Homo sapiens: one gene and its partners. The protein of the gene in region 3 purifies or fractionates together with the protein of the main gene of each other region. This does not show direct contact. Each region holds a gene or a part of one and is shown on either strand. Other genes may lie near its edges.

What was found. The genes of interacting proteins can lie anywhere in the genome.
Region 1: the proteins of RBMX (region 3) and P3H2 purify together in Homo sapiens (affinity purification with mass spectrometry; 3 studies listed by BioGRID and IntAct, with this or other methods). This does not show direct contact.
Region 2: the proteins of RBMX (region 3) and HPD purify together in Homo sapiens (affinity purification with mass spectrometry; 3 studies listed by BioGRID and IntAct, with this or other methods). This does not show direct contact.

The regions. Positions count from the first base shown.
Region 1 is NC_000003.12:190,117,880-190,124,707, reverse strand, and holds the start of P3H2 (prolyl 3-hydroxylase 2 isoform a precursor), read left to right. Parts: upstream 1-3,810; 5' UTR 3,811-3,976; coding exon 3,977-4,456; intron 4,457-6,828. UniProt on the Homo sapiens protein: Prolyl 3-hydroxylase that catalyzes the post-translational formation of 3-hydroxyproline on collagens. Contributes to proline 3-hydroxylation of collagen COL4A1 and COL1A1 in tendons, the eye sclera and in the eye lens capsule.
Region 2 is NC_000012.12:121,855,842-121,863,844, reverse strand, and holds the start of HPD (4-hydroxyphenylpyruvate dioxygenase), read left to right. Parts: upstream 1-4,985; 5' UTR 4,986-5,021; coding exon 5,022-5,024; intron 5,025-5,131; coding exon 5,132-5,158; intron 5,159-6,006; exon of another isoform or gene 6,007-6,025; coding exon 6,026-6,088; exon of another isoform or gene 6,089-6,226; intron 6,227-6,412; coding exon 6,413-6,517; intron 6,518-7,198; exon of another isoform or gene 7,199-7,219; coding exon 7,220-7,262; exon of another isoform or gene 7,263-7,438; coding exon 7,439-7,521; exon of another isoform or gene 7,522-7,592; intron 7,593-8,003. UniProt on the Homo sapiens protein: Catalyzes the conversion of 4-hydroxyphenylpyruvic acid to homogentisic acid, one of the steps in tyrosine catabolism.
Region 3 is NC_000023.11:136,877,710-136,885,096, forward strand, and holds the start of RBMX (RNA-binding motif protein, X chromosome), read right to left. Parts: upstream 3,017-7,387; 5' UTR 2,888-3,016; intron 1,745-2,887; 5' UTR 1,719-1,744; coding exon 1,610-1,718; intron 1,563-1,609; exon of another isoform or gene 1,490-1,562; intron 1,450-1,489; exon of another isoform or gene 1,415-1,449; coding exon 1,308-1,414; intron 378-1,307; coding exon 206-377; intron 1-205.

The DNA of each region.
Region 1 (6,828 bases), on a different chromosome or scaffold from region 3:
ACTAGACACCAACAGTATGAATGCTCCCACCTACCATGCCCCAGATCCGACAACCAAAAATACCTCCAGATAATGTGAAATGTCCTCTGGGGAGTACAATCACTCTCAATTGAGAACCACTGCTCTAACTGAAGCTGTGAATCTTAACCTTTGGTTAGTATCTGCATCACCTGAGAAACTGGTAAAAATATAAAGGCCCAGACTAGATTCTAGTTCAAAAATCCAGGGTCTCCACGATCTTACTAGCTTTTTCACAACACAACGAAGTTTTAGAACCATTGTTCCTAAGAAATCAGATAATAAAGTATGGGCAGCACATCATCAAGGAACAAGTTAGAAATGCAAATTTGAAAGCTCCACCCCAGGTTTAGTGAATCCGGAACTCTGAGATGGAAGTCAGTTAATTATTTAAGGAAAAAGTACATTCTTGGCACACTCTGTGAGAAGTTCAGGAGTATAAGAGACTCGTGGATGACTGTCTGTTCCAACATTGAGTAAGTACCACTGGGACAGCATGACCTGGAATCAGCTTCTTGGCACTGCATGGCTCTTATTACCATAAGGTCATGAACTTTTTGTCCTGATCCAGCCTTAAAAAGCAGATCAGATTGGCTTTCCTGGGAGGGAATATCTGGGGGATTACACAAAACCCTACCTATTCTCCAAACCCTACCTACTCATGAATTCTACACAGCACCTGGAACCCCAACTCATAGACTTATTCTTTGGGCTGTGGCATTAGCTGTAGACCTGTGGTTCTCAACCTTGGCTTCGTATTATAATCACCTGGGAAACTTCTAAAAATCCCATCGCTCAGGTCATATCCCAGACCAATAAATCAGAATCTTTCAGAGCAGAAGCCAGACACTTCTTAGGTGATTCTAATGTTCAAGCAAATTTGAGTTGTCAATGAATAGTTTCTCTCAAGTCAGGCAGAGATTGTACGTAAGGTAGTAATACAAGGCATATTACTTACTTACTACTTGTAGTAAGATATAAGAAATAAGGTAGTAGGACATACAAGAGGCTTGAAAGAACCTGGCCAATTTGGCAATCAGTAGGATGTGGTTGCATTCTATAGGCTATTGACTGTGTGCTAATGCCAATTATTTCCCTAAGTCTTTTTAGATCCTTCTAGCCAGAAGCTATCTTTGTAACCTCTGTGTTCCCAGAGCTCTTTTTTCTTTCTTCTTCTTTTTTTTTTTTCTTTTTGTTTTTTGAGACTGAGTCTCACTCTGTGGCTCAGGCTGGAGTACAATGGCGCGATCTTGGCTGACTGCAACCTCTGCATCCCGGGTTCAAGTGATTCTCCTGCCTCAGCCTCCTGAGTAGCTGGGATTAAATGTGCCTGCCACCACGCCCAGTTGATTTTTGTATTTTCAGTAGAGACGGAATTTCACCATGTTGGCCAAGCTGGTCTCCAACTCCTGAGCTCAGGTGATCCACCTGCCTCGGCCTCCCAAAGTGCTGGGATCACAAGTGTGAGCCACTGCGCCCGGCCAACACTTTCAATCTAATCTAACACGTACCACATTCTACCTTGTATTATAGCTGTATACATTATATATATCAAATTTGTTTCCTATACAGTACTGTGAGCTTCCCAAAGGTAAGAATCCTGACTTATCTTCTCTTTCACCTAGAATATTTACTTTAAGAGTAGGCATCAAAAATTGTTAATTTAATTGAAATATATTAAATGATGTAGAAATGTCACCAAATGTACAAATAGAATGTAGCAAGGTATCCTGGCACTTTGCCCTCAGTCCCACAGCAGGAGTTCCTATCCTGATGTGCTTCAAAACCTTCCACAAGTGGACTGATAACCCTGGACTAGACTCCAAAATCTTTATCTGAAAACAGACAATCTCTAGAGAAAAAGTCTGGGCAGATGACTGATGTGCTAATTCTGGAACACTGACCATCCAAGGCATTCAATATACATTCAGCTCCAAACTGGAGCTTTTTCATCAGTGATATGAGCCGAATTAGTAACGTTTGGTGGGAAAAAAAAAGAGCATGATTCATCAGTGTCTCTTGGAATTACACAGCCAGGGCTGTTCATGGCCTGAGTGGTCAAACCTAACAAAATGAATGAAGGAATCAGCATGAATCTCTGGCAAGCCCCTCAGCGTAGTGGTGATTCCACATAAAAGCCTTCTTCGGAAAAATCATAGCAACTAGATACATGCGTGAGTCTTTTTCCCATTGCCTGTCCCTCTGCTCACCATTGCAGGGGCTGAAAGACTGATGAGATTCTCACAGGCACTAGAAGACCACAGAAATGCCTCCAGGAGGCAGGCTGGGATCCAGGGTCCAACCAATATTCTTGTGAGAGTGTGAAGCCAAGGAACACGAAAGAGGGGAACACCTTGGCTAAGAATGTATTCGTGACAGAGGAGAAGGGGAGGAACAGGAAGCCTCCAGCTAGTCGTTTGGAATCTGGCAACCATTTCTGTCAGCTTTCTCATTCCTAGATTGATGCAGATTGCTTAATTCCTTGAGGTAAGGGATATACTAAATTGCCTCTTTGTTCAACTCTTAGAATAAGAATTTCCCTCTCCTCTCCCGTCCCCTCCCCTCCCCTCCTCTCCTCTCTTTTCTTTTTCTTTGTTTTTTTTGTTTTTGAGACGGAGTCTCACTCTGTCACCCAGGCTGCATGATCTCAGCTCACTGCAACCTTCACCTCCCAGGTTCAAGCAATTATCCTGCCTCAGCCTCCTGAGTAGCTGGGTCTGCAGGCACGTGCCACCACGCCCAGCTAATTTTTGTATTTTTAGTAGAGACGGGGTTTTGCCATGGTGGCCAGGCTGGTCTCGAACTCCTGACCTCAGGTGATCCACCCGCCTTGGCCTCCCAAAGTGCTGGGATTACAGGGGTGAGCCACTGCACCTGGCCCACAGCAAGAATTTTTTTCTGAATAGCATTTTACGTGTTAGGCGTCTGGCTGTTTAGGAGATGAGGAAACTGAGGCCCTCAGTTGCCAAGGTCACACAGCTGGTAAACGGACGGAGCCAGAATGCGAGTACAGCTCCTCCTGCCTCCAAAGGTTCTCTGGGCCCTGTAAAACCACGGGCTGCACAGGAAAGGCAGGCTATATATTGTTCTTCCCCTGGCCCAGCGCCCTGATCCAATGCCCGGACACACATCCACACCAAGTTGGACGAAAAGGTAAGGGAGAAACCTTCCCCAAGAGAAGAAGCGGTAAGCTTTGGTTCTAAAGGCCCTGGGTTGGGTCCGTCCTTTGCCACTTCTCAGCTCTATGCATTTAGGCAAATCACTTATCTTCTTAAACCTCCGCATCTGGGCCTACAGGGCCTCTATGGGTTTTTTTTCTATTTATTTATTTATTTATTCTTTTTTTTTTTAACTTTACGTTCCGGGATACACGTGCAGAATGCGCAGATTTGTTGCGTAGGTACACATGGCATCTACGGTTTGATTCAGTCTGAAATGGCGCTCCAGGCTTCATTTAGAAGGTGAAGCACTCTGCAAACTGCGAGGCCATACAGAGATTCCAGAATATGATTAAGGCCCTAACCTTGCTAAGCTGGATTTTCTTTATTTCCCAAAAAGAAGACTAATACTATCCACTTGTACAACCAGAAGGGAGCTCACGTGTAAAGCGCCTCGTCCCCGGCCGGCCTCAAGCGGCGCTAGCTCTCTGGCTGGCGCTGGAGTGTGCCGCCCCTGGCAGCCCCGCCGCTGCAGCGGGGAGCCTGGGAGAGCGGCTCTCGGAGTCTCAGGCAGCAGGAGGAGCGTGTGAGCTGTGGGCGTCCCTTTAAGAGCGGCTGGCCAGGCACGGCCTCCGCCTCTCAGTACGCGGAGCGCCGGCGGTCACCTGGGGCTCGCGGAGCGGCCAGATCGCGGCGGAGTCGGCGCGCTTCCCCGAGGGAAGGTGGGAGAGGGGACCCGGACGCGAGGTGCCCCGAAGCCCTCTCGAGCGTAACCGTCCCGCGCCTCTCTGAGGCGGAGGATGCGGGAGCGCATCTGGGCGCCGCCGCTGCTGCTGCTGCTGCCGCTGCTACTGCCGCCGCCACTGTGGGGCGGCCCCCCGGACAGCCCACGCCGGGAGCTGGAGCTGGAGCCCGGGCCTCTGCAGCCCTTCGACCTGCTCTACGCCAGCGGCGCGGCCGCCTACTACAGCGGAGACTACGAGCGAGCGGTGCGCGACTTGGAAGCGGCGCTGCGCAGCCACCGGCGCCTGCGGGAAATCCGCACGCGCTGTGCCCGCCACTGCGCGGCGCGCCACCCGCTCCCGCCCCCGCCCCCCGGCGAGGGCCCCGGCGCTGAGCTGCCCCTTTTCCGCTCCTTGTTGGGGCGGGCGCGCTGTTATCGCAGCTGTGAGACCCAGCGCCTCGGGGGCCCCGCATCCCGCCACCGCGTCAGCGAGGATGTGCGCAGCGACTTCCAGCGCAGAGTGCCCTACAACTACCTGCAGCGGGCCTACATCAAGGTACCCACAGAGCGCTCCTCCACTGCAAAGCCCCTGCGGCTCTCACACGCTCTCTTGAGCCCTCCCTGCTGCCCCCGTCATCTCTGTTCAGTCTTTCGAATTGGGTCTCCTTAAATATGTGTCTCAGTTTGTGAATCCAGATATCTGGTGGCCCTATCTCTGTATGCAACAATTGATTAACTTGGACAAGTCTTTTTCTCTCTTTCTCAGAGCCAGCTTCTCTCTCAAAAAGAGGACTGTCCTGATAAGGTGATGTTTAAAGTACCCATTCAGCACTAATTCATGAGGCATTGACAAAGCTGAATCTAGTACAATTTATCTTCTCCCTTCTCACTTCCCATTTCTCTTCTCCCTTCTCACTTCCCATTTCTCTTCTCCCTTCTCACTTCCCATTTCTTTTGTCTCCTCTCTCTTATCCTTCCTATACTGTAGTCTGCACCTTTTCTCTGAAGTTTAAAAGAATCTTCAAAATAGTGAAGTTGAAAGACCTGTTCCAAAACAAATTTCTCTCTCTTCTCCCCTTCACCTACAAAAAAGTAAAGATCAAAGGTTAAAGAGAAGGTATGCTTGGAGGAGGCGAAGCTGTTTGAGGCAGTCTCAGTCAAAGTATCCACCCTAAGTGTTGACTTTTTCTCCTTTGATAGAGGGCTTACGTTTTCTGGTGGTATGCATTGGACTGGGTTACTAGGCATCAGTCCTCTCTTTCTAGTTTTATTTTTGTATGCCTAACTTGCCTAAAGTTAGCGTCAGGAGGTATAGTATGCATATTGACATATTGTTCACATCCATAACTTTGAAGATCTCTCTGGATGCTTCAGCAGAGGGAATTTGAATGAGTTCTTCAACCTCCACTGCCACTCACCCAATTTTCCTTCAAATTGACACTCTTAACCCTTCTTTCTCGTTTTCTGTGTTAATATATCAATGTATCTTCTACAGCTACCGGAAAAGTGGAAGCTTTGGGGTTGGTTGTTCATGCTAGCCAATGGACCAGGCTGCTCTGCTCTGCTCTGCTCTGCTGTGCTCTGCTTTGCTTTCTTTTCTCCTCTCCTCTCCCCTCCTCTCCTCTCCTCTCCTCTCCCCTCCCCTCCCCTCCCCTCCCCTCCCCTCCCCTCTCCTCTCCTCTCTTCCTTTTCTTTTCTTTTTTTGACGGAGTTTTGCTCTTGTCACCCAGGCTGGAGTGCAGTGGTGCAATCTGGGCTCACTGCAACCTCCGCCTCCCGGGCTCAAACGATTCTCCTGCCTCAGCCTCCTGAGTAGCTGGGATTACAGGTGTGCACCACCATGCCGGGCTAATTTTTGTGTGTGTTTGTGTATTTTTAGTAGCGAAGGGGTTTCACCATGTTGGCCAGGCTGGTCTCGAACTCCTGACCTCAGGTGACCCGTCCGTCTCCGCCTCCAAAAGTGCTGGGATTATAGGCGTGAGCACGGCTGGACCAGGCTGTGTTTCTAAGGAGATGAAAGTACATACCATGTTCAAATATCCAAATGCCTTTTGCAGCTCATCCCACAAGATCTCTGCCCTCATCTGTGGTAGGGTTCTCTCAGATTGGCAACTGTTGGTGGAGTGCACGAAATTTCAACTAAGTATAAATCTTAACTTCCTTGTGTTGTGGCTAAGGTGTTGGAGTTCACTGGACTAGTATCTTGGGCAAGAAATGAGGAGAAAGTCTGAATCCTTTCCAGGACTTGTCTTCTGCTTGCTTGTGCCTCCTGATTGCTAAGGCATGTATGAAGTATAACTCTAATTTCTTCTAAGTGATTTACACAATTTCTGGTGGTCTTACAGAAATCAGTCAACACCAGGCAGAGAGGGGACCTTGAGTGTCTGACGGTGAAGTTATCATAAGCTAGTTCCCAGAGCAGAACATGGGTGGTCCCTGTAGCTTGGTCCTCCCAGGAGTCTCGGATGTAAGGTTAGCAGTCCTGCTGTTAATTCTGTCACAAATTTTGGACATATTTTCCTTTCTCATATCTGGAGAAAGAATACATAGTCAAGGTCAGTCCTATAAAAACAAATAACCATGAGGTAACTCTCAATATGTGGGTTTCCCTGGTTCTGGAATTCTGCTTGCTTCACTGTTAATGTCAGCATTTGTCAGTCATTTCCCCTCCGGTTCCCTGGTTGGAGGTCAAAGAAGGTGAAGCCATAGGTTTAACATACCTCAAATTTTTGTGGTGAATTGATTACAGGAACAAGTCACACTCTGTAAGTGAATTACTGGGTGTTGTCTGATGAATTAATGAAGTTTAAGAAGTTCTTTCAAAGATCCGTGGCTTCGTGTGTTCATTTCAGTTCTACCAGCAATATTTCTGAGAGCAGAACAAGTCTTGCGTCTTCTCCCTACTTCTCTTCTCTGGCAGTTTCTTGG
Region 2 (8,003 bases), on a different chromosome or scaffold from region 3:
TCACAAATTTCCAAAATGGGCTTATATAACTCTCCACCCTTTTCTTTCTTTTTTTTTTTCTTTTAGAGACAGGGTCTCATTCTGCTGCCCAGGCTGAAGTGCAGTGGTGCAATTATAGCTCACTGTACCCTTGAACTCCTGGGCTCAAGGGATCCCCCCATCTCAGCCTCTTAAAGTGCTGGGATTACAGGTGTCAGCCACTGCTCCTGGCTCGCCACCAATGCTTTTCATTCTGATCATTTCTGTAGTGAGCAGCATAGAAGAAATAATGCCTTTTGAGGGACAGTTGCATTTAACAGACAGCCTTACTAAGGTGAGTACGTCAGGACAAAGATGCGGGAAGGAGAATCAGGCTATTAGTCCATTGTTGCAAATTGCAACGAATTGAGAAAGTCAGACACAACGATCAACTGCAGTGAAACATTTGGTGGGGAGTTTTGAGAGTCCAGTCTGAAGGAGTGCGTGGAAGGATCACGGTCCCTGTGATGTACCCTCTCTCGGCTTGTTGCTTTGGGCAGGAATCACAAGTTAGGAAGGAATCAGCACCAGAAATGCAGAGCTGGCTGGGCGCAGTGGCTCACGCCTGTAATCCCAGCACTTTGGGAGGCCGAGGCGGGAAGATCACCTGAGGCCAAGAGTTCGAGATCAGCCTCGCCAACATGGCGAAGCCCTGTCTCTGATAAAAAATACAAAAATTAGCTTGGTGTGGTGGCGCATGCCTGTAGTCTTAACTACTTGGGAGACTGAGGCGGGAGAATCACTTGAACCTAGGAGGCGGAGGTTGCAGTGAGCAGAGATCACGCCATTGCACTTCAGCTTGGGAGACATCCCAAGACCATCTTAAAAAAAAAAAAAGGAGGGGGGGTGCCGGGCGCGGTGGCTCACGCCTATAATCCCGGCACTTTGGGAGGCCAAGGCGAGCGAATCACGAGGTCAGGAGATTGAGACCATCCTGGCTAACACGGTGAAACCTCATCTCTACTAAAAATACAAAACATTAGCTGAGCCAGGTGGCAGGTGCCTGTATTCCCAGCTACTCCGGAGGCTGAGGCAGGAGAATGGCGTGAACCTTGGAGGTGGAGCTTGCAGTGAGCCGAGATTGCACCATTGCACTCCAGCCTAAAAAAAAAAAAAAAAAAAAAAAAAGCTTGCATTGAGCCGAGATGCCAAGATCACGCCACTGCACTCCAGCCTGGGCCACAGAGGGAGACTCTGTCTCAAAAAAAAAAAAAAAAAAAAAAAAAAAAAGGCCGAGAGCGGTGGCTCACGCCTGTAATCCCAGCACTTTGGGAGGCCGAGGTGGGCAGATCACCTGAGGTCAGGAGTTCGAGACATGCCTGACCAACATGGTGAAACCCCATCTCTACTAAAAATACAAAATTAGCTGGGCGTGGTGGCACATGCCTGTAATCCCTGCTACTTGGGATGCTGAGACAGGAGAATCGATTGAACCTGGGAGGCGGAGGTTGTAATAAGCCGAGATCGCACCATTGCACTCCAGCCTGGGCAGCAAGAGCGAGACTCCGTCTCAAAAAAAAAAAAAAAAGAAATGCAGAGCTGAAGAGCAGCCCAATGTAAATGGTCCCATTAGAGAGGAACTCTTTCATCATGGACATCTGTAAGTGACCCACACTGTCCAGCAGCATCCACGATGTTTGCACAGCATATGGCCCCAGGGAGGGATGTCTCTAATCTGCCAGGGTCCTAGAGTTAAAGTCCTGTGTGTTGAGTGGAGCAATTTTGCCCATTTTTTTAGTTTGGCAGAATTCATGCTGACACTGAAACAGCTCACAGCAGACAGCATCAGGTTTCAGCATTTTTTTTTCTCTTTTTTTAAGACAGGGTCTCACTCTGTCACCGAGGCTGGAGTGCAGTGGTGCGATCATAGCTCATTGCAGCCTCGACCTCTTGGGCTCAAGCAACCGTCCCCTTGCAGAGCTTTCAGCTTGGGATCAGGTTTGGAAAACTAGAATTCGTGAATTCAGGATTTTCTTCTGCAGTAGCTAAGCCAAGAGACTGTTTGTCTCGAGGCTAAGAGCGAAGCGAGGCTTTCTTAAGCCCTTTAAGTCTGTCAGTTTCAGAGCCCGGGTGGACGCCTGTAAAAAGATCCCTATCAGCTAGAAAATCATGACTCTAAGGGTCAGCTGTGTGGTTTCACAAGGGCTCATTAGCAACTAAAAACTGCTTTTTAAAACCCTGAAAGTGTATCTCCATTTAGAGATTGCCTCTTTTTCATGTTTTTTTCCAGAAGCTGTAATATTAGCAAACACTATAGTAAGAACTATCAGTAACTGAGACTTGTTCCATTTTATTTACTTACTTACTTACTTATTTCTTTATTTTGAGACAGGGTCTCATTCTGTCGCCCAGGCTGGAGCGCAGTGGCACAATCTCGCATTGCAACCTCCACCTCCTGGGTTCAAGTGATTCTCCTGCCTCAGCCTCCCAAGTAGCTGGGTGGGATTACAGGCACACACCACCACACCCAGCTAATTTTTTTTTTTTTTTTGAGACAGAGTCTTACTCTGTTGCTCAGGCTGGAGTGCAGTGGCATGATCTCGGCTCACTGCAACCTCCACCTCCTGGGTTCAAGCAATTCTCCTGTCTCAGCCTCCCAAGTAGATGGGACTACAGGTGCCTGCCACCATGCCCAGCTAATTTTTGTATTTTTAGTAGAGACGGTGTTTCACCATATTGGTCAGGCTGGTCTCAAACTCCTGACCTCAGGTGACCCACCCGCCTCAGCCTCCTAAAGTGCTAGGATTATAGGCATGAGCCACTGCATCCAGGCTAATTTTTGTATTTTTAGTAGAGATAGGGTTTCACCATGTTGGCCAGGCTGGTCTCGAACACCTAACCTCAAGTGATCCTCCCTCCTCGGCCTCCCAAAGTGCTAGGATTACAGGTGTGAGCCACTGGGCCCTGCCTTATCTATTTTTGATACAAGTTCTCACCCTGTTCCCCAGGCTAGAGTGCAGTGGCGTGATCATAGCTCACTGCAACCTTTAACTCCTGGACTCAAGTGATCCTCCCACCTCAGCCTCCTGAGTGGCTGGGGACTACAGGTGCTCACTACCAGGCCCAGCTAGGTGAATGCTTTTCTGCACACCAGGGTATTTTCAAGGATGCGTCCTATGAACCCATCTGATCAGTGAGCTTCTTGAGCAAGGCCTCTGGAACCCACCTCTGCATGGTCGGGCATGAAGAACAGAGACAGTCACACCCAGCCACTGCTGATCTGTTATCCAGTGGAGCCCAGCCTGAACAGAGAGCATCAGGGAGGGGACTCTGGATACTGGGCCCTGCAGGCTTGCCTCCCTGCTCTCTGCCCAGACATGTGAATGGCATCTAGGGGTGCACCCAGCATGGGACTGAGACCTACAGTGTTGGGGACAGAGTTCCTACCTCTAGATGCCTGCCAGCCTTTGCAACCCACTGCTGTTGACACACTTCCTTGAGTTAGTAAACATTGGCCTTTGTGCTTAGCATATAAGCCAGGGCAGGCTCCAGGAGTGGGGGTTTGAGTTGGCCACAGCAATCAAAGTGACAAGATGTTCCTGCTGGCCTGGAGGGGATAGGCAGGCTACACAGAGCTCTTCTCCTCCATGGGAACCTTCTGGGCCTGTGAGATCCACCCTGGGCCACCTCCACTCAAGTTTTCCCAGTTGGATATTTATTTATTTATTTGAGATGGAGTCTCACTCTGTCACCCAGGCTGGAGGGCAGTGGCATGATCACTGCTCACTGCAATCTCTGCCTCCTTGGTTCAAGTGATCCTCCTGCCTCAGTCCCCTGAGTAGCTGGGACTACAGACGTGCACCACCGTGCCCAGCTAATGTTTGTATTTTTAGTAGAGATGAGGTTTTACCATGTTGCCAGGCTGGTCTCAAACTCCTGGCCTCAAGTGATCCTCCCTCCTTGGCCTCCCAAAGTGCTGGGATTACAGGCGTGAGCCACCACCCCCGGCCCCCAGTTGGAAATTTAGACTTAAGGAGCTGAGGTGGACACTGGGAGCACACTGGGCAGGCCCAGGACAGGCAGAATAAGGGGGTGGGACCACCTTGCCTGCCTCCTGAATGGCCCAGAAAATAGAGAAAAGGAGGGAGAAGTGGTCTGCACTGGTGCAATGAGATCCAACTTCAGAATCAAACAGGCCAGAGTTTGGGGCTCTGCTCTTACCAGTTCCATGACCTGGGAGACATGTGTTCACCTCTCCAGGCCTCAGTTTCCCCATCTGATGGGGATATCAATATCTCCCATTTGTATAGAGGGCAATCTAGCAATTTAAAGTGTGGGTCCTGGAGTTAGAATAGCCCGGTTCATGTTCCAGTTCTTCCCTGCCGCTTGCTGACCTCATGGCCTAGGAATGTTCTCTGTCCCAATGAATTATAACCAACACTGAGAGTGTCCTGTGTGCCAGGTCCTGTTCCAAAGAGCGTGCTTATCTCCTTTAATCCCCACCACACTATTCTCATTCCTGTTTTACAAATGAGGCTCAAAGGGATATGGTGATTTTCCCAAGTCACACTGTATGTAACAGAGCCAGGATGCAAACCTTCTCCTGCCGTGCCTCTCAGAGCTATGGAATACAACGCTGTGACGCAAACAGGACTTTGGGGCCAGTCTCCAAATGCCCCCTCAAATTTCCTCTAGGCAAGAGTTCTGGAGCCGCCACTGCACTCCAGCCGGCCTTGGCTTCTGAGCTTTGGATTCTGGGCAGTAATGGTCACATTCCCAGCGTCCTGGAAAAGCTTGCCCTTGGCTTCTGGCCCTGACTCTGCCTCCCACTGACTAGTGGACGTCACTGCCCCTCTCTGGGCCTGGCAACACCATCCTGTTCAATGAGGCTGCGGCTGGATCAGAGGTCCCCAGGCCTGGAACCTTCCAGGGCTGGGCTCAGCTCCCCACCCCATCCCCCAGGTAGGCCAGGAGGCCTGGGCGGGACCTGCTTGGGGTTAAATACTCCGGCCCAGCACTCCCCAGGCCTCTAGTCCCAGTAGGAGGTTTGACTAAGATCAATCATGGTAAGTGCCATGGCCATCTCCCCTTGGGTGGGACATCTTCAGTAACGCTTCCAGAAGCACCTTGTGTTGGAACCTCCAAGTCTCACTGTCCTTCTTTTTCTCCTTAGACGACTTACAGTGACAAAGGGGCAAAGGTAAGCAGGCGAAATGTGGGAAATGTAGGGGCCTGAGTCTAGAAGGGGGTCGGAGTGCAGGGAGACTGGGGTTTCAGCAGAGAGCAGAAGAGGAAGGACTGGAGTGGATACATGACGTGCATGCCTGCACACTCAGCTTTACCCCCGGGGCTCCCCGAGACTGAGCTGGACTCAACCTCACCCTCACAACAAACTTGTATCCTGGCCGGGCATGGTGGCTCATGCCTGTAATCCCAGTGCTTTGGGAGGCCAAGGCAGGCAAATACTTGAGGTCAGGAGTTCGAGACCAGCCTGGTCAACATGAGGAAACCCCGTCTCTACTAAAAATACGAAAATTAGCCGGGCATGGTAGCGCACCCCTGTAATCCCAGCTACTCAGGAGGCTAAGGTGGGGGAGATCACTTGAACCCTAGGATCGCTTGAACCTGGGAGGCGGAAGTTGCAGTGAGCCAAGATTGCACCACTGCACTCCACTCCAGCCTGGGCAATAGAGCAAAACTCCATCTCAGAAACAAAAACCAAAACAAAACCTGTACCCCTTCTCAAATGCCTGCCAATCTTTTAATCCCATCTGGAAGTTCTTTCTAAGGTCTAACTTAAATCCATATTGCTGCAACATAAGTCTATTTCCCTGTGTGAAACCTTGGCAGGCCTCCTGAGGGGGTTTCCCCATCCAAGACACCCAGGAGCTCAACTTCCACATGAGAAACCTCTTTTGAGGCTTGGCAAGGCTGCATGGGGTTCCGCTGCTCCTAAGTTCTGTGGTTGAGGCTGGAATAAGGAGGGTGGCTAGGGGACATCACTCCACCCGCACTTTTCTAGACTCACTTTCAGGGACTCAACCTCACCTCTTCTCTCCTTCTGCAGCCTGAGAGAGGCCGATTCCTCCACTTCCACTCTGTGACCTTCTGGGTTGGCAACGCCAAGCAGGTAGAAGCCGGGGCAAGGTGCTGGAGTGAGCAGACGGCAGGGCAGAGGGCTGCCTGACAAGGGCAGGCCTCCAGCAGGGTCTGTGATTGGCCCTTGGGAGGGAGGATCAGGCCAGGGGTGGGCCAGATACTCTGAATCCTAATTACACCAGCGGGAAAGTTATCTGTCAGCAAAATGTGCAGGCAGCAGTCTATCTTCCCAGGAGGGTCTCTGCCCCTGAGGCAATAGGGCAGGCAGGCTGAGGGGGGCCAGGGGCTCTCTTGCGGAAGTCCCCCATGCTGGCCCCTTGACCCTCATGAACCCTGCTGCAACCCTGTGATTCAGGCCACGTCATTCTACTGCAGCAAGATGGGCTTTGAACCTCTAGCCTACAGGGGCCTGGAGACCGGTTCCCGGGAGGTGGTCAGCCATGTAATCAAACAAGGGAAGGTGAGTCACCACCCCCAGGACAGCCCCCAACCCCTGCCTGGCCAACATGGTGAAACCCCATCTCTATTAAAAATAGAAAAATTAGCTGGGCATGATGGTGGGCACCTGTAATCCCAGCTACTCAGGAGGCTGAGGCAGGCACATCGCTTGAACCCGGGAGGCAGAGGTTGCAGTGAGCCAACGTCGTGCCACTGCACTCCAGCCTGGGCGACAGAGCAAGACTCCATCTCAACAAAAAAAAACAAAAAACAACAAAAAACCCCAACAACAACAACAAAAACATATAATTCAGCTCCCACCGACCCCTCCGCTGGCATCTTTGTACAGCCATGCAACACGGCCCTTCCTAGTTTCGTTTCCTCCTCAGCCTGGCCCAACACTGACCCCACAGGTGCTCAGAAAACCTGGGATATCAGAGGAGAGGAATTTTAAGCAGTGCCCTGACCGATGGGGTCCCTGGAGTTCTCTCCCCGAGGGAGACCTGACCTAGCAGTTCCTCTGAGGATCCAGAGGGGGTCTGGCTGAAAGCCCCATCCCTCAGGACCAGTGTGGGAAACTAAGGCAGAGAAGGAGCTAGAACCCAGGTCCAGGAGTTCTTGTGCTCCATCAGGGGTGTTTCGGGTCGGCAGGGAGGGGCCGATGGGTGCACCTCCCCATGCCCCCCTGAGCCACTAGCCTCACCTCCTTCTCCTCCTATCTTAGATTGTGTTTGTCCTCTCCTCAGCGCTCAACCCCTGGAACAAAGGTGAGGTGCCCGGGGAGGGTGGACGCATGGCTCTGTGGGTGGGATCTGGGTTCTGGGAGGGTGGACGCATGGCTCCGTGGGTGGGCTCTGGGTTCAGGGCCTGGATGGAGACTAAAAGCCAGGTGAGGGGACCTAGACTCCAGACTCCAGTGCCATCCTCTCCCTGCCGGCCACAGAGATGGGCGATCACCTGGTGAAACACGGTGACGGAGTGAAGGACATTGCGTTCGAGGTGGAAGATTGTGACTACATCGTGCAGGTAAGAAAGCACCTGGGTGGACTGAGAGAGGAAGGCCTCCGTCTGCCATGGGGACCCCATCAGTCAGGGCTGGAAGGACACTGCTGCATCACAGTGACAAGCCCAGATGCCACATCACAGTGACAAGCTCAGATGCTGCATCACAGTGACAAGCCCAGATGCTGCATCACAGTGACAAGCCCAGATGCTGGTGTGACACACACCTGGGCTCCGGGGGTGCCCTGCCTTCCCCCGTGTCCTCTCTCTCACTGAGCCTCAGTTTCCACAGCTGCCAGATGGGGCTAACCACAGCTGGGTTGTCAAAGGAGGAAATTAGAATTACCATTTCCTTTTTTTTTTTTTTTTTTTTTTGTGAGACGGAGTTTTGCTCTTGTTGCCCAGGTTGGAGTGCAATGGCACGATCTCGGCTCACCGCAACTTCTGCCTCCTGGATTCAAGCAATTCTCCTGCCTCAGCCTCCTAAGTAGCTAGGATTACAGGCA
Region 3 (7,387 bases):
AGAAGTAACACTGTCCACGGTTTAACACCATAATCTAAAACATGCTTCCCATGCTTTCAATTGGCAATCACTTTGGTAGATGAACAAGTGTTGTCAATTTCAAAAGTTGGCACCTTTCCTCAAGGACTTAACCAAAGCATCCACTTGGTGTGAGCTTGCAGTCCCTAACTTATACACCAAACCCGAGGTCCACGCAAGTTATTACCCATGTGTCCTCCCCGTGAGGGAGGTCCCCTGGTTCCTCCACTTCCTCCTCTTCCACCTCTAAGACCTCTTGGAGGGCCTCTACTTCTTGGAGGTGGAGGCGGTCCACGTCTACCACTTTCAAATGATGGTTTGGTGGCTTGTTCCACCTTGATGGCTTTTCCATCTAATGACTAAAAAAAAAGATACGATTAAATTAAATCAAGATTTAAAAATAATTTGCACATCTACTATGCACTAAGACACTAACTGGTCCTTCAAAATGCAGTTATGGGTAAGTGTTGCTCATTAGTCTAAGAAAAAACACTGCAAATATAGTCAGTTTACATAAATGGGGCTTTTCCGCTTAAAATTCTTAATACTTAAAACCGATACTGATGATCTGGATTGAAACATAAGGTGAACCCACTGCATTATTGTATGGTAAAATTTAAAACAAGGCCAAGTAGGTATCAGCTTGTTATCAAAACTAGTAGCCAAAACCAAAAGCCAAGTTATCAAAATATGGCTTATGGATCTCAAGATAAAATGTATCATGTTGGCTGGGCGCAGTGGCTCGCAGTGTCTCACACCTGTAATCCCAGTACTTTGGGAGGCGGAGGCAGCTGGATCACCTGAAGTCAGGAGTTTGAGACCAGCCTGGCCAACATGGTGAAACCCTGTCTCTACTAAAAATACAAAGTTAGCCGGGCGTGGTCGCGCATGCCTGTAATCCCAGCTACTGGGGGGGGGGGGGGGGGCTGAGGCAGAAAAATCGCTTAGAACTCGGGAGACAGGCTGCAGTGGGCACTGCACCATTGCACTCCAGGCTAGGCAACGGAGGGAGACTATCAAAAAAAAAAAAAAAAAAGTACCATGTAATGCCATAATTATTCTGAACTGAGAGAATGTTACGAGCATAAGATATAACTCACTACTAGATTTGGTTCTGCAATTACAGAATACTCTTTGGAACAGGATCACAAACAGGATGAGTGGATCCCAGACAGGTATATACTGAAAAACAACGAAAACTCAAAAGCTGTCCTAGACCAGACTTGGACAACTACATGTTATTTTATGCACTAGTAACAGGTTATCATCCATCGTGTAGACAATCTCACCTTTCCATTCATGTCTCTGGCTGCATCCTTAGCGTCTGCTGGGCTTTCAAAGGTGACAAAAGCAAATCCTCTTGATTTGTTGGTTTCACGGTCTTTCATCAAGAGTACTAAAAAGTAGTTTTCAGAAAAATAAAGTGTTACCCTAGGTCAAATGAAATAACCAAAGTAAATGTGTAAACAGAAAGCTCAGAACTTCTTAGAGGACAAAAATACATTATCATGTCAGACGATCAATGCAATCAAATTCATCATAGCTTATATTTTAATTATAATAGCCCAGCCTGTACTGCCAGACAACTCACCTTCCACTATTCGTCCATATTTGCCAAATACTGCTTCAAGAGCTTTCTCATTTGTTTCCGTATTAAGCCCACCAATGAAGAGCTTTCCTGGGCGATCTGCTTCAACCATGTTTTTTTTTTTTTGGGCCGGTGAGTCTGTTGAAAAGGAATAGTATTACCTCACTGCAAAAAGTTCCTCAAGTTTATTGGACACTTTTACTTTCGCACATTTCTCATATTTTCCACTAAAACCATTGTTCCTTAATAACTAAAGAAAACGATAACGAGCTAAGCCTCAGCCACAGTAGGAAGCAATTTGAACTAAGTAGTTTAGTAACACTGCAATTTACATAAAACTGGTTAAAAGGGCCAACTTAACTTTTACCACTACCCTTGATCACCCTTAGCTGTTCTTAAGCAACAGCTGCTTAACATTTGAAAAAGCAACTTTTAGTTCCAGTCCTCTTGCCTTTGAAAGATTCAATTACTCATCACACCCTTCCTAACGATGGTTTTAAAAGACTCCCAAGGTCACAGGCTAGACACAGGACCTTAACACCAAGCCCTCTTCCAACGACTCCTCTTTTCCTCATTAGGATTCCCTACTAAATCCAAGGAGAAATGTGAAGTTTAAGCCAAGTTATGCCGCCCCTCTTCTTCACCGGCCCCCGCCCTACCGAAAATTCTACTATCCGGCCAAAAAGATAAAAACAAATCGTCAACATCGTTTGCTATTAAGTAACGGAACGCGGACGCACACACTAACACTCGACACTCCGTGACTGCAGCGGAACCTAATTAAAACTCGTCATTAAAAACCGCGTGTAAAAGACAAAATGGCGACACTTGGATTCAACCCAGAACCACCGACACTGGTCAGGGGACTAACTTTTACCACCAACATTGGCTGGGAACATTCAGAGGGCTTCTTCTCCGGGGCCGCCAATGAATACGAAGCCCGCAGCCCGCATGGAAGTCCACATGCCCATCATTAGCGCCAGCGCCATACCAATGCAGGTATCGCCGTGGTGCGGTCGCTCCTCGCCCCGCTCCAGCCTACAAAGCCCCGACCTCCGCTACCAACTCCCGCAGATGGCAGCCAAACTTTCTCGAGAAGCATACAACCAAACGGGCCCCCTCATTTGTTTTCCCTCGACCCCCTCAGCTTTATTTAAATAGGTCGGAACCTTTGGGTTCTTAAAATGGCGCCCGCCACCCCCATCTCCAGGGAGATATAATCCCCAGTCCTAACACGGGGAGAGTGTCACGAAAAACGGACTGAGGAAAGGAGACACGTACCGGAGGGGTGACAATGGGTTCAAGCTCCAACGAGCTCGGCGATAGGGGCTTCCTAGCAGCTCAGCACCAGTGGCGGCTGCCGGGTGCGAGGACCGAACCGCGAAGCCGCTAGCACTACTGCGCAACGAGGGCGAACAAAGGAGACAGCAAACTTTATACTGCCCGGGAACGAGGCTGAAGGACCCGGATGGAAACGGAGCTTAGAATTTGAAACGCAAAGGGAGGGGGGAAGTAGTTCCCAGTCTCCCCATTGGCTGGCTCCTCTGTCATTCACCCTTCTCTCCTCCCTTTTTCCCGGGCCCTCGGTGTTGGGTCGACAGACCTTTCTAACCGTTTTCTCTACCCCCACCCGTTCTTTACAAACGCGCTTTTTTTGCTTTACGCTAAAATGGTGCACAGGCTTCCTTTAATAAAGAACTGAAGTTTATTGAGCGTCCTAGTGGGCCGGGCACGGTGCAAAACTTTACTTTTACTTTTCCATTAACTCTTCTAATTGTCAAAATGTGATGAGGGTAGATACTCCTACTATACCAATTTTGCAGAAACGGAAAACAAAGAAGTTTTGGCAATATAATATATTTTCAAAAATTGTCTTTAACAAGTGTTTTTAGTGAGTGTGGGAATTTCTGATAAATACATGTAAATTTCAGATGAGTAAAAAACGTACAAAACAGCATGCAGATAGTACATTCATATAGAACAATTACTGAGCACCTTGTAAATGGTGGGCTCTGGGCTAGGCCAGGAAAATACAACTCCAGGGAAAAGACAAGAGTCAGGCCTGTGGGTAAGGATGCCGGATTTAATAAATGAAAATACCAGGCCGGGTGCAGTGGCTCACGCCTGTAATCCCAGCACTTTGGGAGGCCAAGGTCGGTGGATCACGAAGTCAGGAGATGGAGACCATCCTGGCTAACACGGTGAAACCCCGTCTCTTTTTAAAAATACAAAAAATTACCCAGGCGTGGTGGCACGCGCCTGTAGTCCCAGCTACTCGGGAGGCTGAGGCAGGAGAATCCGGGAGGCGGAGGTTGCAGTGAGCCAAGACTGCGCCACCGCACTCCAGCCTGGGCAGGCGACAGAGCGAGACTCCGTCTCAAAATAAAAAAGAAAATGCGGGACGCTAATTTATTCTGCGAAGCTGTTAAAAAATTTTAAATAAAAATATGGGACGCGGCCGGGGCGCGGTGGCTCATGCCTGTAATCCTAGCACTTTGGGAGGCCGAGGCGGGCAGATTGCCTGAGCTCAGGGGTTTGAGACCAGCCTGGGCAACATGGTGAAACCCCGTCTCTACTAAAATAAAAATAAAAAATAAAAAAATTAGCCGGGCGTGGCGGCGTGTGCCTGTAGTCCCAGCTACTCGGGAGGCTGAGGCAGGAGAATTGCTTGAACCCAGGAGGCGGCGGTTGCAGTGAGCCAAGATCATACCACTGCACTCCAGCCTGGCAACAGAGCGAGACTTCGTCTAAAAAAAAAAAAAGGGACGCCCAGTTAAGTTTAAATTTCAGATAACGAATACTTTTTTTAGTATAGTATGTCCCAAATCTCATATTTTAAAAATTCGCTGTTTATCGGAAATTCAAATTTAACTGAGCATTCTATATTTCATCTGCCCATCCTACTTGTTGAGGGGGGAAACCAAAAAATTTTTTAATTTTTTTCTTAAAGAAATTGAATACAATTAACAAAAGAATGGCATGTTGTGATTAATGCCAGGGAGGAAATAAACTAGTTGCTTTGATGGACAATATTAGGGAGAACAAATTTGATTAAAACATCAGGGAAGGTCTATGTGAAGAGGTGACTTTGGAGATCAGAGCTGAAGGAAGAAAAGAAACTAGCTATGGGAACAGCTGAGGGAAAAACCTTCAGGAAAAGAAGAGAATAGTAAACACAAAGTAGAGAGGAAGAGCTTGGCATATATCAAGGGACAGAAAGAGGGCCAGGTGACAAGAATATGAGGGGCATGAAATGAGGGAGCCAAGATTGGCAGGACCTTTGAGCCCATTAAATGACTGTAGGGGGTAAGTGTGGGAAAAAGGACACTAATAGGGCTGTGGGAGCAGACCAGAAAGAGAGGATGGTGGCTTGAATCAGGGTGGCGGCAGTGGACACGGGGAGGAAAGAACAATTGTTAGATGAATATGATAGGTATCGTGTTTAATGGTGCTATGGTCTAAATGTTTGTGTCCTCCCCCAAATTCATATGTTGAAATCCTAATACCCAAGGTGATGGCATTAGGAGGCGGGGATTTGGGGAGAAGATTAGGTCACAAAAGGGTAGGGTCCTCATGAATGGGATTAACACTTTTATAAAAGAGGCCCCTGTCCACCATGTGAGAACACAGTGAGGTGCCACTTATATGAACCAGAAAACTGGTGGTGGTGGGCCCTCACCAGACACTGAATATGCTGGCGTCTTTATCTTGGACTTCCCAGCCTACAAAAATGTGAGAAATAAATTTCTGTTGTTTATAAGCCAGCCAGTTTATGGTATTTTGTTATAGTAGCAGGAATGGACTAAGACAGATGGGAAAGGGGTGGGGAAGAATTGCGGAAAAAGAAAATCATTATGGATGACTCCAAGTATCTGGTATTAGTGGGACAGATGGTAACAGTCATTTACCAAAATGGTTTCAGAGGAGCAAGTTTGGGATATAGGGGCAGAAAAATCTGAAGCTCAGAGCATAGATCTGTGCTAAATTATCATCTCAGAGATGTAATAAAAGCCATCAGAATGAATGAAACCACCAAACAAGAGAGTACAGTGGGAAAAGAAGGCCCAAGATCACATAATATGAGCTATTAAAAAAATACATATGGAGACAAAATAACTGGGAGGAAATATGCCAAAATGTTACCAGTTTATCTTGGAGTGGTAGAATTTATGGACAATTTTCACTTTTCTTCTTCTTCTTCTCCTTTTTTTTTTGTTTGTTTTTTTGTTTTTTTGAGAAAGAGGTTCGCTCTCATTGCCCAGGCTAGAGTGCACTGGTGCGATCTTGGGTCACTGCAACCTCTGCCTCCCGGGTTCAAGCGATTCTCCCGTCTCCGCCTCCTGAGTAGCTGGGATTACAGGCATACGCCACCATGCCCGGCTAATTTTGTATTTTTAGTAGAGACAGAGTTTCACCATGTTGGCCAGGCTGGTCTCAAACTCCTGACCTCAGGTGATACGCCCGCCTCGCCCTCCCAAAGTGCTGAGATTACAGGCCTGAGCCACCGTGCCGGGCCTTTTCTTCTTCATAGTTACAATTACCTGCCCATGGTGAATTTTGGTATATGCCAGGCAGGTTGTAGTAAATAATATTCAGGTCACGGGTAAAAGCCCCCAAGGAGCTTCGAAACCAGCTCTGAATTATTAACATTAATAGGGGGAGTAATGCCCAGTAGGACAAGAATATTTGTTCTTGTTTTTTTTCCCCCAGCCAAATAATAAAAAGTAAGGCAAAACTCATGTCCATTTGCCTTTTGAATGAGTTCTGTAAATTATAGACTCTGGAGTCATTTGGGAACTGGCAAAAATGGCTTAAATACCAGGCTCAGCAAGCAGAACTTGTACTCCCAGAGGTAGCCAGGAGAAATCCCTCACCCTGTGGAAGCAGGCACTCTCTTTCTCTGTCTCAAATCCAAAGAGAGACTACAGGACTCTCCTCTAGGCTCTGAGTGTAAATCAGGTCTCCTCTAGTCTAGGGCAAAATGGGGCAGGCTCGACAATAGATAACCCTGTCCTCCTGGGTCTCAAAAAGGAAATGTGCATCCCCGTAGACCAGCTCACTTTGGCCTCTGCAGTTCACACCCAGGAATGTGGGGGAGGAGAAGTAGCATGCTGGCGGTGTTGGATGCAAACACAATTCCCAAGGACCAAAAGCGAGTGGGTGGGGTGGGGATGGCTAAGTTAAAGGAATTGTAGGAGGGGATCAGTTGGCCATATCGTCCAGGACAGAGAGGAAAAAGAAGCAGCTTGTGGGGGAAGCAGAGTGCTACTGACTAGATCTAGAGGGCAATGGAGAGGGGAGCCTTTTTTTTTTTTTTGAGACGGTGTTTCGCTCTTTCGACCAGGCTGGAGTGAAGTGGCGCAATCCCAGCTCACTGCAACCTCCGCCCCCCGGGTTCAAGCGATTCTCCTGTCTCAGCCTCCCAAGTAGCTGGGATTACAGGTGTCCACCACCATGCCAGGCTAATTTTTGTACTTTTAGTAGAGACGGGGTTTCGCCATGTTGGCCAGGCTGGTCTCGAACTCCTGACCTCAGGTGATCCACCCACCTCGGCCTCCCAAAGTGCTGGGATTACAGGCGTGAGCCACTGAGCCTGGCCGAGAGGGGAGCCTTTTTAAGAGGTGGAGTAAGGTAATCAGATTTCATCTTAATGAGATTACTGTGGTTGCAGTCTGGAGACTGTATTGGGGGAGGGAGAGACAGGAAGCAGGGAGACAAATCAGAAGGGTATTGCTGATGTAATGCAGGAGAGGGGGGACGTGGGCGTGCTGAGTGTGAGGG